Regions from separate parts of the Homo sapiens genome. Here region 1 is linked to region 2. The links come from fine-mapping of genetic effects on gene expression. A gene starts in region 2. The other region holds a variant in brackets. All regions are shown on one strand. Distances are between the middles of the regions.

Region 1 (8,000 bases), 33 kb before region 2:
TTACAGGGCAACTTTGGGCAAGTTCCTCCTCCCCATAGCTTGGTTTCCCGGCCTGATCTCTGAGGCTCCCTGTAGCTCTGCTGTCCTGTGATTCCCATAACTGTTTCCGGGAGGCTGCTGGAGGAGCTGAGCCGTGGACAGGGTGGGAAGGATGAGCAGAACTTGCAGAGGCAGAGAGGACACAGAGAGGACACATGCAGAGACACCAGACCTGGTGTGTGTGGGTTCAGGCAGGGTAAAGTGGGGAGCCCAACTGGATGCTGCTGTGGATGGGACCTGCGGCTGTAGGGCCTTAGATGCCCAGCAGGGGAGCTGGGCCCAGTGCCGTCTGCAGTAGGGTAACACTGCAGGTCCTTGGGAGTGGAATTGGTGTAACAAAGGCAATGTCTTTGGTAGGAGTATTCCAGATAGACTAGAGAGAAAGAGTCAACTATCTGGCCCACGGTGTGCTTTATTTCTTACATACTGTACTAGTTTGGGACTTTCTGAAATAGCTAAAGCTGTGGTTCCTTAAACTGTTTTGAGTCTTGGGTCCTCAGAAGCTGATGAATGCTTGGGCCATTCCCCAGAAGACACATGTGTAGGCCAGGCATGGTGGCTTACGCCTGTAATCTCAGTACTTTGGGAGGCCGAGGTGGGTGGATCACCTGAGGTCAGGAGTTCAAGACCAGCCTGGCCATTGTGGTGAAACCCCGTCTCAACTAAAAATACAAAAATTAGCTTGGTGTAGTGGTGCACACCTGTAATCCCAGCTCCTCAGGAGCCTGAGGCAGGAGAATCGCTTGAACCCAGGAGGCGGAGGTTGCAGGACGTATATGCAGATGTCCCTTGGTAAACATGGGAGAGTGGTTCCAGAACTCCCTGAGGATACCCAAAATCCATGGATGCTCAAGTCCCTGATGTAAAATGGCGTAGTAGTTCCCTATAACCTATACACATCCTCCTATATACTTTAAATCATCTCTAGATTACTTACGATACCTAATACAATGTAAATGCTAAATTTTGGTATACTGTATTGTTTAGGGAATAATGACAAGAAAAAAATTCTGTACATGTTCAATACAGTTTTTTGTTTGTTTGTTTTGGGACGGAATCTTGCTCTGTTGCCCAGGCTGGAGTGCTGTGGTGCGATCTCTGCTCACTGCAACCTCCGACTCCCTGGTTCAAATAGTTCTCCTGCCTCAGCCTCCCAAGTAGCTGGGATTACAGGCACGTGCCACCATGCCCAGCTAATTTTTGTATTTTTAGTAGAGACAGGGTTTCACCACTCAGGCCGTCTTGATCTCCTGACCTTGTGATCTGCCCGCTCAGCCTCCCAAAGTGGTGGGATTACAGGCGTGAGCCATCGCGCCCGGCCAGTTTGTTTTTTTAGAAGATTTTTGATCTGCAGTTGGTTGAATCCATGGATGCGGAACCCATGGATATGGAGGGCTGACTGTGCAGTGATGTCCCTTTTCTGGGCTTGTTACTGTCAGGGGTCAATTCATCCTCCTAAGAACCCTGTGAGGTTGAAGGGAGGGAAGGGTTGTGCGGACATTTGGTAGATGAGGATGCTGAGGTCCAGCAGACAAGTGACTTACTGTCAGGCACTCTGCAAGGCCCAGTGTGTGGGAGGATGGTGGCCCCGCTGCTGTGGAGCCACCAGTGGCCTGTGAGTCCTGGGTTCTGCCCTGTGAGTCAGCCCCAGACAGGGAACCTGCATAACTGGAGAATTTCCCGGGGCTGAGCTGGGGTCACAGGGGGAAACTGAGTCATGAGAAATGAGGAAGCAGAGGGAGAATGGACTGGCGGCGCCTACTCAGGCCTTGGTGAAGAGTGGGCCGTGTGCCCTTTCCCTCTCCAGGCGCTGGGCCCCCTGCCCCGTGAGGACGGCAACCTGATGCTGCACCTGCAGCGCCTGGAGACCACGCTGAGTGTGTGTGCCGAGGAGCCGGACCACGGCCAGCTCTTCACCCACCTGGGCCGCATGGCCCTGGAGTTCAACCGACTGGCATCCAAGGTGCACAAGAATGAGCAGCGCACCTCCATTCTGCAGGTGAGGCGCGTGGGGAGGGCAGCCCGAGACAGGCAGGCGTGCTTCCCCCCGAGCTCTTCCCACCTTCCTGCTCCTGGGAATCCACTGGTACCATGGGGACTTCTGAAGGCTGTGTTGTGGGCAGACTTCGGGCTTTTTGTTCAGGGTGATGAACAGGATAAGGAAGTTGTGGGGAGGGATGAGGAAGAGGAAGGAAATGGGGAAATACGGGATGGGCAATGCGAGTGTCATGGTTGGGGATACCCCCAGCAGCCCTGCCTTTATTTCTCATGTGCAGGGTTGGGGGATGGGAAGGGAGGGAACAAAGGTCAACTCCTTTCATAATGCCTCTTTCCCCCCAGGGTAGGCACCCTCATTATCACCACTTCACAGGTGGGGAAGCAGCCCTTTTTTTGCCCAAGGTCACCCAGCTGGTAAATGGTGAAGTAGGGATTGGAACCTCGATCTCTCGCATTCCAAAGCCCATACTCTTGACCACCATCCCAACCTGCCTCCCCTATTGAATTCCTTTTGAAAGCCTCCCTGTGCTGTGGGGAATGGACAGATTTCCTTGCTAGGCCAGGCCAGACCTTGGAGTTATATGGTCCTTGGTTCCAGTAGTGACCCTTTATTGCTGTATGACCTTGGACAAGTCACTTATCCTCTCTATCCCCCAATGTTCCTATCAGTAACATGAGCTAGAAGTGCCTCCATGGTTAGATTGCTGCATTAAATGAGGCCATGTACATGAAGCACCCAGTGCAGTCCAGAACCTAGTCCATGCTGGAAGAGAGGTCCCCATTCGGAGTTCATGACGGGCATCCACACTGGGCAGGGGGTCTTAGCCTTGTGGGCTTTAGCAGCGGGGAAGTGTTCAGTTATAATTGGTGACCATTCTAAAGATGGCAAAACGGAGGCTTCTGAGGGACTGCTCGTGATCTGAGTGCCCGCCACCTTAGTGACAGAGCCATGACTTGAAGCCTCCTTACTCCCTGCAGACTCTCCTCCCAGGCCATTCTCTGATCTGTGGTCTCATTCATGTCAGCAGGCACTCAAGTGCCCCGCTGATGGCAGAAGGGGGAGTCCCCCTTGCGTGACCTTGGTTGCCGAGGGCATGAAGGGCAATCAGGTTGGAGATGCAGTATGAGGAGAGGTGTGGGGGTAGAGGAGCACGGAGGATGCCCATCCCACCTGGAGGGGAGGGGTGTGTTGGGAGGTGAGGCTGAACGAGAGGCAGAGGCCTGGAGAGCCAGGCTGAGAGAAGGGAACCCCTTTAAGATGTCAGTGAGGCTTCAAGGTATCCAGGCTGAACCCTGGCAAGGTGAGCCTGGCACAGTGCCTAGGCTGTGGGCAGGGTAGGAAGGTGCCTGGGGTGAGAGCACTTTGCGCATCCACTTTTCAGCTTTGAGATGGGGATAGATCCTAGGCCCCTTAAAAGGGGTCCTGCCAACCTCTGTTATTTTTTATTTCAGTCCCCTCCTTGTTTATTTCCTTCTTAGCTCTTATCATAGTTTGTAATAATTTTATTTAATACATTTTTTCTTATACTCTTTTTTTTCTTATACTCTCTGCTAGAAGGTAAGCTTGAGGGGGGCAGGCACCATGTCTGTTGTATTCACTGTTGCGTCCCAGTTCGTGGCACTTCATACACACTTGGTGAATGAATGAAAGGACAAAATAATAAATGATCAAATGAACTCATAGCTCTCGTAGCACCTTGGATGGAAGGTGATGATCTTTGTGACCTCTGATGATTCTATCCATTGGCCGGTTTGCACCCAGGGCATTGGCCCAGAGACTCCAAGGAAACAGCTCTCTAGACTGCAAGGGTAGGACAGCAAGTGAGGCCTTGTCCTGGCCTTCCCTTAGGGACTAGGAGCAGGCCATTCTGTTCCCTGGAGGCCTCGCCCAGAGACATGGCATCTTGGGTATTTTTACTGCCTGGGTGGAGGTGTATTGATCCAGTTCCTCCTCATTCATTCACTGATGTGTTTCTTGGTTCACTAAACAAACATATTCAAGGTCAGGTATAGCATAAGGCTCTCTGCTAGGCATTGAATGGACTCATAACAATAATTTTTTGATTTCTTTTTTTTAAGGGGTGTTGGGGGACAGGGTCTTGCTCCGCCACCCAGGCTGGAGTGCAGTGGTGCGACCACAGCTCACTACAGCCTTGACCTCCTGGGCTCAGTTCTCCCACCTCAGTTCCCTGAATAGCTGAGACTACATGCATGCGCCCTTATGCCTGGCCAATTTTTTGGTATTTTTAGTAGAGACAGGGTTTTGCCATGTTGCCCAGACTGGTGTTGAACTCCTGGGCTCAAGTGATCCTCCTGCCTCAGCCTCCCAAAGTGCTGGGATTACTGGTGTGAGCCACCATGCCCAGCTGGTTCTCTGTTTGCTAAGCCTCATCTCCCTCATTGTCCAGCCACCTCCAGTTGAAGGCTGTGTCCTCCATTCAGCCTTCCCAAGAGTCTCCTTTGTGAGTCAGAAATGAAACAACTCTGAAATCTCCCTGGGTTACACAACAAAAGTTTTCCCTCCTATTCTGTGTGGCAGGGGTTTGTTTCTGCTCTACACAGTTCCTTAGAGTCCCAGGGAGACAGGGGCCCAACTTTCCGGTGCCCTTTAGAATACGAGGCATCCACATCAGCCCCTGCTACCAGGAAAAAGAGACTGGAGAATTGTGCGTAGGCCAGTCCAGGAGTGATGCTTGTCCCTTCTACACCTCTTTTGTTGGCCAGAACTAGTCACATGGTTGCATCCACCTGCAACAGGCCTGGGAGGTGGAAGGCAGCAGATGGCTGTTTAGTGAATGGCCCTGGTCCTGGCCCAGCTCAAAGGCTGTCCCCTCCTTTGGGCACCATCTCTCTCCCTTCTCTGATCTTTCATCACAGGGG[A/G]AAGAGACACCAGTGTGGGGTCTGCCAATTGGAGTTTTACTCCCCGCCAGTGATGAGTCTTAGCAGCTGTGCACCTGTTAGACTGTATCATTTTACCTGGTTTCCCTACCTTTAACATAGAGATGAGTTACTTAGCTTTGAGGAAGTTGTGAGGCACCAGTGAGGCAGTATATGGAGAAACACCGAGCAATGTACCTGGCACAGGTGAGGTGCTCAGTGAGGATCTGTGGAAAGATTGAACAACTCTGTGCTGACACTGTATGCTAGCATTGCTAGTCAGCACCTTCCCTTCCCCCCAGCCTGTGAGGTCCTGAGTCTGGCGACCCCTCTTCCATGCCCCCAGTTCACAGAGCTTCCAATATGAGTCCCCGCACATAAGCAAGTGACTGATGGTTCATGGACACTTCCACTCTCACTGTCTCATCTGTCCCTCTCAGCAGCCCTATAGAGGAGGCAGAGAAGAAACAGTTGTCCCTGGGCTAGGTGTGGTGGCTCATGCCTGTAATCCCAGCACTTTGGGAGACTGAGGCAGGTGGATCACTTGAGGTCAGGAGTTTGATACCAGCCTGGCCAACATGGTGAAACCCCGTCTGTACTGAAAATACAAAAATTAGCCAGGCATGGTGGCACACACCTGTAGTTCCAGCTACTCAGGAGGCTGAGGCAGGAGAATCTCTTGAACCTGGGAGGTGGAGGTTGCAGTGAGCTGAGATCATGCTACTGCAGTCCAGCCTGGGCAACAGAGTGAGACTCTGTCTTAAAAAAAAAAAAAAAAAAAAAAAAAAGAGAAACAGTTGTCTTTCTTTTGTAGAGGAGGAACCAAGTGTCACAGCCACATTGTGAGGGCGTGAGGGCATAGTGAGGTCCCGACTGAATGCCTTGTCTTCTGGTTTTCCCCTTGGCAACACTGGGCACCTCTCACACCTGCAAATTGGTGTGCCTTTCAGCCCCCCTAGGACTCGCCTGCTCATTTGTCCATTTGCTCATTTGGCTGTTCAGTCATGTTGTTCCTTCCACAAACTTTGAGCTGGGGGCTGGGGATCTGGCAGTGAACAAGAGGATGGTTAGGGGTCCCAGCCCTCCGGGAGCTCAGGAATTAATTAGGGGTAAGGGGGTAGATATTAAGAAAACAGCAGCACGAACAGTTCTTTAGCTTTATCTGCCACAGGTGCTGAGAAGCGTAAAAGCGGGGGGCTGTGAGCAAGGATAACGGAGTTAGCCTAATGTAGCTGGATCGGGGAGTCAGGGAGGACTTCTCTGAGGAGATGGGATTTAAACTAAGACTTCAAAGAAGGGTAGAAGTCAGCTGGGGGAGGCTGGTGGGGAATAGGGGTCCCGGCAGTGGGAGCAGGGATGAAGGAGAAGGGATGGAGCTGTCTGTCTTGGAGGAGCAGAAGGCCCCATGGCTGATACTTGGTCAGGCTTCTCCGTAGTTGGCTCCCAAGGGAGAGGACACGTGGGTGGCCAAGTGGCTTAGCTCCTTAGAGAGGGATGGGGTGAGGCCAGGCAAAGGGGATAAGGAGTTGGGCCCTGGGGTGGCTACAGGCCCCCCACCATCCTCTAGCTCAGCCTGCACCTGGGAGGGGCCCCTCCTTTCCCTCACCCTGTCTGTTCCCCTGCCCCACAGACCCTGTGTGAGCAGCTTCGGAAGGAGAACGAGGCTCTGAAGGCCAAGTTGGATAAGGGCCTGGAACAGCGGGATCAGGCTGCCGAGAGGCTGCGGTAAGTTCAGGCCCCTCAGAGAAGGGGTGAGGAGTGGGGGCTGCAGGAGGAGGGGCTGGTGTGCAGCACTGATTTCTGGGTTGAGGACCGTGGCTCTGAGGCCCTGTGCCCAGAGCCCTATTTGGAGGTTACGTCTCTTGATCCTTCTCCTTGGCTCTTTTGGTATTTTCTCTCTGGCCCTTTTGCCACCTTGGGAGGTGTATAGAGTGCCTTGAGAGCTTCAGAAGAAGGTCAGCATAGATTGTACTTCCTTCCTCCTCCAGCACTTGCCTCTCTCCCCTGTTAACGGTGAACTGGCTGTCCAGAGGACTCAGGACTTTGCTGCCTCCTGCTGGTCACCATCCCAACCTGCTCTGTCTTCCTGAGAACATGAGAGCTCCCCCACTGGACTAGGGGGCTTAGACTTAACTGAGGGTTGAGGGTCAGGGAAAGGCATTACAAGTTTATACGCCTTCCCTTCCTTCCTTTGCAAGATTCTGAATTGACAGGTCTTAGGCAAGACCTAGGAGCCTGCATTTCACCAGGAGTCTCTGTGATTATGAACGAGGTAGGCACAGGATCACGCCTTGGGAAACACTGATCTTGACTGTCAGAGCTTGACAAGCCCTTGGAGATCATGCAGACAGACCTCTCACTGTGCAGAGGGGAAACTGAGGCCCAGGGAGAGGCAGGGACTTGATTGGAGTCTTACAACAGGAACTTGGGCCTCCTTGCTCTCCATCCTGTGAGTGGCCACAATTCCTGCCTGCACTGTGGTCCTGGACAGTTTGGGTGATGAGTCATCTGGTGGGTACCAGCTGGGCTCAGGCACATAGGAAAGGCCCGTGTCACAGACAGGACTTGCCACTCTGTTTTTCCCTCCTCTCCTGTTTCTTATTAGAATCAACAGAAAGAGAAGGAATATAAACTTTGTAAGTATGGCCACAGAAGTAATGTTTAACTACTGAGCCACTGGCTATTTTGAATCAGTGTGTAATTTATTTGCTTTTGGATGGCCAAGGATGCACTTTTGGGGTTTTTATAGCCCTAGTGACCCCATCCATGGATTCAGAAACTGAAGCTGGGGAAAAAAGTCACGGATTAGAAGGCAAGAATGCAAGTCTCTGCTGTATGACCTTGGGAAAGTCATTTTACTTATTGGTTTTTCAAGCGGAAACTCAGCTGGCAAATAGAACATAAAGAAGTGGTGGTTGGGCGTTGTGGCTCACACCTGTAATCCCAGCACTTTGGGACGTTAAGGCGGGAGGATTGCTTTGAGTCCATGAGTTTGAGACCAGCCTGGTGAAATACATCACCACCCCTCCCCCAGCCCCAACAAAAAATACCAAAAAAATTAGCTGGGTGTGGTGGTGTGCCTGTAG
Region 2 (9,200 bases):
TAGGGAGAAAGGAGTAAGCATATCAGGAGATCATGAAACCTGCGCCAAATGCCCCATTCCACCGCTAATAGCTTTGTGACCCTGTTTAAGTTGTATCTTCGCTCTGAGTCTTGGTTTCCCATGTGTAGATTGAGAAGAGGGGAAGGCTAAACTAGATCATCTTCAAAGTTTATTTTAGAATGGGCATTAGAAGTGTAGCCTGCTCCTTCATCCCGCTACACCACGCATACACTCTGGGGCCTCGAGGCAATTGCCTGCTTTCCAGAGAGCTGCCAAGAGAAGCACCAAAGCAGATGGGGCTGAGGGAAAATAAGATATTCTCAGCAAGATGGAGCTTCAGTTACCATCTCATGCTCCAGCCAAAGGGAGCTCTAAGCACAAACCTAATCTCTATCCCTCTGCCTTTAGGGTTGTTGAGGTGCCCAGAGATGAAGAAGGATAACTAGGAATCTCCTAGAACATGTCCAAAGGCAATCAGACCTCAGGCTTATATAATCATCTTCACAAAACCACGGAACACAGTGGAGCTGAGAAAAGGGGCTTGGACTCTCGTGATTGCCATCACCCTTTCCCCCATGCACCAGAAAAGCTCCTGTGATTGAAATATGCCATACAGCCCCAAATAAAGCAGGGAGGAAGGGTGGGCTCTTACCAATGTACTGGCCCGTCAGGCCTCAGTAGCTGGCCACGTTGACAAAGAGGACGTATTTGCCAGCATACTGCTTGAAGGGGATGTACTCCTCCCCATCAATGGTGAGGGCTCCGTACTCGTAAATGGTGCCACTTATGCCACCATGGCAGTCCATCTGGAACACAGGCCATAAAAGGAGCAGTTAGAGCTGGAAAGGAACTTGGACATCTCCGTTTTCAAAAGAATGAAAGATCCCAACAGAGAGAGTGACTTTCTCAAAGTAATCACCGAGAATTGGAACTGGACTAGCACTGACGTCTCCTAATTCCTTGTTTAAGATAATGATTATGAAAGCACTTAATAAGTGCTTTTCGGGTACTTAATATTAAGTGCTTAAAAAGCACTTATTAATATTAAGCACCTAATAAGCACTTATTAATATTAAGCACTTAATAAGTGAGTGCTATGGAACCCTGGAGAATGACTTATTTTGCTAATTACTTCCACATCACATGTCAATTTCAGAACATTTACTGGGCTCTCAGGGAGACTGCCCTAAAGCTGATGACTGGGTTCCTAGACGGGCTGATGGAGACTGGTTGGGTGGCTGTTGGAATAATCCAGGCAATTGAGGATGAGAACCTGAACTAGGCCAGTGTGAAGGAAAAACTGAACAGAAAGGAGGAAGAGGCCGTATGGACATGGTGATTCAGAGGCTCCCAATCTGCAGGACAGGAAAGATGAAGCTGTTGTTACCAAATAGGGAAGCAGGACTGAGAGCCAGGCATGGGGGAAAGGGCTGTGGTGAGGTAGGGAAAAGCAACAGTACCTGCATGTGTTAATGTTCCGGGTCTGAGCAGGCTGGTGATGACCCTTATGCCTTCCTCCCTCCCCAGCTGCTGCTCACAGTCAGCCTCCAGGACAAGGAGGGACAGAGTGCAGTGGACTGTGGGCTGGGAGACCTGGGCTCCATGTCCCTTTGCCATTAACTCCCTGTGTGGTCTTGGACTGGCCCTTTCTTTTCTTCGGACCTGAGTTTCCTCATTTATAAAATGAGAACCTTGAACTGAACCAACTCTCCAACCAGGTCAACCATGATGGCTTGATAGGATCATGATCAGTGGGAGAGAGGGGATTGGGGTCACTGCTGGCTAGTAGGATGTGGCCTATGAGCCTACTCTGCCCGTGACACAGACAACAAAATTCTGAGACTATTCTTGAAAGGATGTCATTGCATCATTGACACAATTTGGCAGGTGGGCTGGTCGTGATGGGAAAGGAGAAACCTTGAAACCATTGTATAAGGTGGTCTTTAAGGTCCTTTGTGGCCCTGATATCCTTTGAGAGGTGGGCAGACAATAAACAAATGGAATGCAAAGTAGCATTATAGACCAGGAGAGGGCAGAGACAGGTGGCTGGAGTTAGAGAAGCAAATTCACTCCCTCTCTTCCCCTCAATTCTGGAGAACTTGCTGTTGAGGCAAGGTACCTGGGCCTGACCAGGTGAAGGGAGTGATATATGCTGGCAGGGCGTGGCCCCAGTAGAGTGCAGAAGAGCTGCCTCTGTCATGAAGCAGGTCTGCTGAGCTGGGCGAGGCTGCGCTTCCTCCGCCAGGCCATTCCCTGGCAGCTGCAAGCTCTCTTCTTGGCTCTGGTGCAAACTTCCTGCTTTACATGAGTCTAATATTCCACATCCGGTGACTTTTGGTGGGTGCTGGAGGCAGGCCCAAGACCTAAGATCAACATTCCTACTGCTCCTGGACCTCCTCGTTCCCAGCCAGGGCCAGTTCCGCCTTAAAATGCAGACAAACTGGGGCACAACAAATACACCCTAGACCGCCACAAAGATCTAGTGGCCAGAAAGCCAGGCATGTCTATAGCCTCTCCACTTTTTTAACTCTGCCATGATCCAAAAATGAACTCTGAGACATGGAGGAAAAAAAGATTACAGGTTGTCCTAATAATGGGAACTTGTAAACAGAAGGACCAGCTTCTGGGCACAGTTTCAGCTTGGGGGTGTGGCAAGGAGAACCCTATTTCATTAGGTTCTATTTTTTGCTGGCTGTGTGGCCCTGAGCAAGTCACTTACACTGTCTGGGCATATGTCCAGGGAGATAAGCATGCTGCTGCCCAAAATGGTTGTGGGAATCTGCTGGCAGAGCAAAACAGGCCTGGAGTCTCTTGGAACGAAATCTCATGTCAAGGGATAGTGGGGGTCAGAAGGTGGCCCATGGGTGGAGAGCCACGGCTGTGCTCACCACTGATCACTGCAACTCAGTCCTCTATGAGCCCCCTTCCCTTCTCTGGGCACGTGGAATCCCAGAGCACCGCATCTGAAACAGTGGCCAGAGGAGATAAGGGGAGAGGCCATGAGGGTGCCTGAATCCTCCCACAGCCGGGCAAGAGAAGAGGGTTCCAATGGCTTGAGAGTTGGATGATGGGACTCAGCCAGGACTCTGGCTGGCTGGGGCTGCTGGTCTTGTGTCTTTCTCCTCTCCCGTCTTATTACTCCTATCAATATGATGCTGTGAGAAGTGGTCTGGGAGTCAGGAGACCTGAGTGCTGGGCTTTGCTGTGTCTCTGATGCCATGTGACCCCCTTTGCTGGGGCTCCAGCTCCTCCATTGTAAGATGGAGTCAGGTTCAGGGCTGTCTTAAGGGCCCTTTAACTCTGTCAGCCTGTGGTTCCATGATTCTCTCTGCCAGGTTTAGTCACCTAGAAACCAGCAGTTACTAGGATCCCGTGCACGTCAGCAGTTGTCACTCTTTCCGGCTTCTGCAGTCCTTTTGTAGAGACAAGGAGCGTGGGCAGCCTGAAGTTGGACTGGGGAGGTGACGCAGCAAGAAGAGGAGGACCTGGTCTCTTCCCTAGCATCTCCCTTTCAATTGGTAGGAGGAAAACACCTCTCTGGGGCTGAGTCACCTTTCGTCCATTCCATTCTCCACATGCCCCATAACCCTATCTCTTTACCCTGGGGTTGGGGGTAAGGTGAGTGGTTGGGTCCTAACCCAGAGCTAAGACATCTGAACTCTAAGAACTTGGGAGCAGAGATGGGCATGCCCAGGCTTTCATTAGCCAGCAAGTCCTGACTGGTTGTATGTGATATGATCACACCTCACCCTAAAACTTTTCTAGACCATCCCCATCCTATTCTCTCTGAGTCCATTTATCCTTCCCCAGAGTGCTGCAGAGAAGACACAGCTATGATGAGTTATTCATGGAGTCCACGTTCTCCCCACTAGCCTTCTTGAGGCAGGGCCCAATTGTATCTTCTTTGACCTTTCCAAAACTGAAGGTTGGGACTGACTCCACGGTGCTGGCCTGTCTATGGCCCACCCCAAACCTCAATGTTGAAAATCGATCCCATTCCTGACCTGGAAAATGCCTTCTGAGTTGGGGATTATGAACAGGGATGGATAAAAAGGAGGGGACTTGGACGAAGTGGCTTCACATCCATTTAGACTGACTCCAAGGAGAGGCTGATTAATCGGATTTAGGCTGAGGACCGAAAAGGGGTGAGTAACATGGAAGGAACCCTGTGCTTCCAATGGGCTTCCTGAGAAGTGGACAGAATTTTGGAAACGGAATCCTAGACTCATAAGAACTTAATTAAAGTGAAGACCCAGAGGATTTTAGAAACAAAAGCTCAGAGCTTGCAAAAATGTGAGTTATGCATGTTGGGAAGTTGGAGACAGAAATCGCTCGCTTTGAGTCTATCCCTACACCTGGCTTCTGCCTCCTTCCCCACCCACTCCCACTCCCTGGGTAGAGGAGAGGTCTACAGAGCCCACCCCAGTACATACTGTCAAAGGAGATAAGCATGCTGGGTCATCCCACTCCTGGCCTCAGTATCCCCACTCCAGGTGTGGGCCACACACCTGCTGGAAATAGACTGAGGCTCTAGAGAATTCTACCTCTTCTTCTGAATTAGCAGTCCCCAGCTTTCTCCAACTACCAGGTTTCCTCAGGCTAATGAGGACAGTGGGTCCTGGGTAGTGAGGCTGCCCCAGGGGAGGAAATTTCAGAGAACAGCTTGTGGATTTTTCAGCTTCTCCAAGCATCCCCTCTGAGGCCCTCAGCTTCATTGTGCCCCATGCACTCCCACCCCCAAACTCTCCCCTGCAGATGGAGAAACGGGGGTCCAGGAGCAGGTAAGGACTCAGGGTCCTGAGTGTTCTGCACTGTCACTCCAGAGCTCTTTCTAGCACAGATCTCTGCCTCTTCTACCAATGCCCTGAATCCAAGTGGCCATTTCTACCTGCCTGTATCATTCTTGGGGTAGAAGAGCCCCCCACAGCAGTTCTTCAGGACCAGGACCACCCAGCTGCCTCTCTCCTTTCTCCTTGTCTCTCTCCCTGGGAACTTGCACAGCCCACCCAGACGCTGGGCATTTTTTTCTGTGACGCCCTCCCTCTTAGGCCCTACTGAAGGGGAGCAGCTCAGGCACGGAGGTGACATAGATGTAGCAAGGCGACCCTCGAGGTGGCAGTGGGGAGAAAGTGCGAGCTCGGGGAGAGAGACCTTCCTCCCTTAGTCATTCTGCCCGCCTGAAGCACCAGGTCTCGGCTCTCCAACAGATGGAACTACGAGACGACGACGGTCGGGGGCGGGGTCCCGGCGGCGGAGGGGGCGGCAAAAGGGGTTCAGGAGGTCTCTCGCACCTGGGGATTGCCCATCTGGCGGGGAGCCTGGGAAAAGGGGTGCATTGCACTGAGCGCTGGACACCGAGGGGCTAGGTTTTTTCTCCCGGCCCCCGGCCCGGAGGCTCACTCACCTTCGACTTCTCTTGTCCCCGGCTCTGCGAGACGAAGCCGGCCAGGAGCAGGGAAAGCAGGCAGGACGCCTGCAGCAGCCGGGCCATGGCGGGGTGGGGGCACACTCAGGGTCGCCTGAGCCGCTGCCTGATCCCTGGCCACCGTCCGTCTGAGGTGTCCGGCGCTCCCAGCCACCTTTCAAGCCCTCGGGTGTGACCAATCCGCGGCCAAGCCGAGACCCTTGCAGCCAATCGCTAGGCGGCTGGGATTTCAGGGGCGGGCGCGACTTGCCCTCAGCTCCCCACCTCCCCGTCCCGGGGCGACAGTGACATAAGCAAATCTGGGCAGAGAGGTGGAAGTCAGGTCCCTGTGGACGTGGGAGGCGGTCCCTTCCTCTTTTGGCTCCAAAGTGCGAAAGGAGGCAGACACAGCGGTCTCCATTACAGCCAGGGCAAGGGGGCTAATAGCTCCCTAGAACTGATGGAAGTCTCCATTCTGGGAAGCATTTCTTATTCCTATCGAGGTTTTAAAAACACCTGGCGATGGTCCTCTGGAAATTGAGGGTTTAAAATTTCAGCAAGAGCTGAAGTTAAACTTCCAGAAACATTTACTATATATAGGTTTAGTGCTTAAGAAACAAAGAGTGGGTGTCCTGGGATTTTGAAAACCCCATTCTGGGTAGGGCATTAGGACTGTAGGGACAGAGAAGGTGGGGTGCCTTTCCTCCCCATCATAAGGATCACAGCTGACATGCCTGTAGAAAAAGGTTAGCAAGAGAAAAGCATAACGATTTATTTAATTAAAGTTTTCTGTGACATGAGAGTCTTCAGAAATGAAGACCCAAAGACTCAAGGAAAACTCTATTTTTAGGCTTAGATTCTATGAAGACCATGGAAATGCGCAGAAATGTGAGTGGGGAAAAAGGGAATGGTCTAATAGTAATAAACTGAGTGGGAAACCCAGCAAGGCTTGTCTGTTCGTATTCTTCTTGGCCTATCTGTGGCCAAACCACCTGGCTTAGAAGCAGAAAATAAATTTGCTCCCTGTGTAGTCTTTAACATGTTGCAGTTACTCTCTGGGCCTCAGTTTCCTCAGCTATGTAATGATGGGATTGATTAGTGATCTCCAGTGCCCTTCTGGCTCTGGCTAGATGACTTGTTTCTAAAGTAAGTGACAGACGGAGACCAGGAGTCCTTTGAGAATAGGGCCCATAATCACCACCTGGCACAGGGCCTAGCACACAAGAGATGTAAAGTATTTGCTGACTTAATCATTCATTACATTAAAAAAACAAAATCTCCATGGAACACTTAGGATCAGACCAGGCAGTTCTAGGGCTGGGCTGTCTAGGTATGATCCCGTTCACAGATGGGGAATGTGATGGAATCAGTCTCAAATCTCTCTGACCACCAGAGTCAACTGGGAAGCCTTTAATACAGATTCCTGGACCCCACTTTGGAATCACTGCATTAGAATCTCTAGGGGCAGAAGCTGAAAATCTGTCTTCAGACATGTTCTAAGGTTATTGTGAGGCAGTTGGCCTGGCTGTAGCCTTGGTAGTGTGAGTCCTAGGATTAAGTGCCTTCTGGAACTTTCTTCTGACCAAGAAATGCCTTGAGAAACCATACCTTTACTATGATTAAAGGTATTAACATCCCCCTGGGAATTTGGAAGATGTCTCTCAAGTTTTGCATTCTCTACGAAGTCTTCCCACCTCAAACCACAGCCTGTTGAAGTGGAAGGAACCACAGAGGCCAGGAAGTCTTTAGCTGAGTTAAAGCCTGGGAGCATATGAACAATGGCTGACACACAGTAAGTGCTCAATACGTTTTATTCAACCACCTCATTTCCCTGAAGCCTAGAGATGAGGAGCAATTTATCCAAGTTCCCATAACCAACTGATGGCAGGGAGGGAACCAGAATCCAGGTCTCTAGACTCAGTCTCAGGCCCTCTCCATGTTGTTCTGTTGTCTTTTAAGGTTCGTATTTACCCTAAAATATAAACATCTGTGTGCACATCAGTTTGTCAGAAATCCATTGTTCATTAGTATCAGTAGGCATCTAGTGACCCTCAAAATAGGCACCTAGCAACATGTTAACACCATGAGAGATGCTAAAGAGTTGTCTAAAAGCCAAAGTCCCTGCTCTCAAAGGTGTTTCCAGCAGATACCAGCAGGGTGAGGGAAGGGAAGGCACCTAGGGTCACACAAGTGCAGGCTGGCACCTGGCAGCGGGCATCTCTCTACATTTTGCACCCTCTATGTCTCACTTGTCTCACCTTAATCCCAGCCCTGGTGGTCTATTTCTTTAGGGGAGACAAGAAGGAGCCAGAGACCTGAGATGCTACCCCTGGATTGCTACGGAAAGTAATAAAATTACTTTCCTTCTCTGATCTCAGTTGTCCACCTATTTAACAAGGATCTTTGACAGTCTCTCAGTGGTGGTGTCTGTGGCTTTTCATTCCTAAGAGTATAAGGAAAGCCTGAGCCATACAAAACAGGAGTACAAAACTGATGACATGGACAGTGGGGTGGGGAGGCTTGGGGAGCCTGCCCTGGCATTAAGAAGGGCTTTCATGCTGCAGTGAGCTTTCAAAGGAGGTCTAACCATTGGCACAAAGAGCATGACAGTGAAAACAATGAGAATGAAAACAATACTTCCCAATCTTTTCATCAGCAGCCTTTTAAATACATTTGGTTGACTTGTTTTCAAGGACCCTATGTTTTGAAATATATCGTTCTCCACCAGGCTGCTTCTGATTGCCCTCAGGTTAAAGTCTAAATTCCTTAGCACTTCAGAAAGTGCCCTCAAAATCCATCTGCTTCTTCCTCTTTTGCCACACTCTCCATATTCTCTCTGCCTCCGCTACACTGGACATTTTTCCGTTCTTGCAGTCTGCCATTCTCCCTCACTTCCAGGTTTCATCTCTGCTGTTCCCTGTGCTTGGAACAGAGGTTGTCTCCCTTTAACTGGTACTATCCTACTCATTTTTCATATCTCCACTAATGTCACGTCTTAAGACAGGGGTTTCGTGATGGTTCCCTTGTTTTCCTGTAGTTCCTAGAGTATTTGACACTTTGTACATCGACCCTTTGTTGTACTTTATCATCATTTCTTGTTTGTCTATTTTCTGCACTAAATTATAAGATCCAAAAAGGCACCAGCACCAGCACAGAGCTTAATACATAGTAGTTGCTTGATACATATCTATCAAATAAATTAATGTCAAGGAAAACAATATTTGGCATATAGAATAAGGAGAGCTTCAAGTTAGCAAGTTGTAACCATGTAGAGCCCGCAAGACTGGTCTGATTTCATCTTCTAGGAAGATTCAAGACGTGCGGGTTATGATGAGTAGGCTTGTCAGAGGAGAGTAGATGATTTGCATTGGCCAAAATGGGAAGGGAGGGATGGAAGGAGAAGCTGTAGAAGAATCATAAGCTAGTTTTGCTTCCAGTCTGAGAACACGTCTTCCGCATTCCAGACAAGTGAGCACTCGGAACCTCTTCATCCTATTTTTTAGAGACCTCTATAGGGAGCTCACTACTTACCTACTTGGTAGGTGAACAGAGACCGAAGATGACTTAAAAAGAGGTTTTACAAAAAGTGCTGATGCACTGTGTCTTCAAGGAAGATAGAACACAAATTAATAAACTCAAAGGATTGTAAAAAGTTAAAACAACGAAAGCCAGCCTTATTATTGGTTAGTAAACATTTCAGGTTCTGAACTCAAAGATGGGATCAGCCACTCTAACTGATGAGCCTAGGTGGAAGCAGAAGTGAGGCCCAGCCTGCGTCACTTCAGTGCCAACTTCA

Evidence for each region.
Region 1: its variant is fine-mapped to the expression of GPX3 in whole blood (INTERVAL, PIP 0.92).

What each region holds. Positions count from the first base shown.
Region 1 is chr5:151,050,804-151,058,803 of GRCh38, reverse strand. It overlaps TNIP1 (TNFAIP3 interacting protein 1), which reads left to right. Exons shown (of 18, transcript NM_006058.5): 6 at 1,847-2,038; 7 at 6,545-6,639. Among named protein-coding and RNA genes, the nearest start is that of TNIP1, 26 kb to the left of the region's middle. RefSeq lists an enhancer at 1,973-2,499. The variant A/G (reference allele first, on the strand shown) is at 4,918.
Region 2 is chr5:151,016,946-151,026,145 of GRCh38, reverse strand. GPX3 (glutathione peroxidase 3) reads right to left here and starts at 5,555. Exons shown (of 5, transcript NM_002084.5): 1 at 5,405-5,555; 2 at 653-806. The coding sequence starts at 5,491. RefSeq lists an enhancer at 2,911-4,110.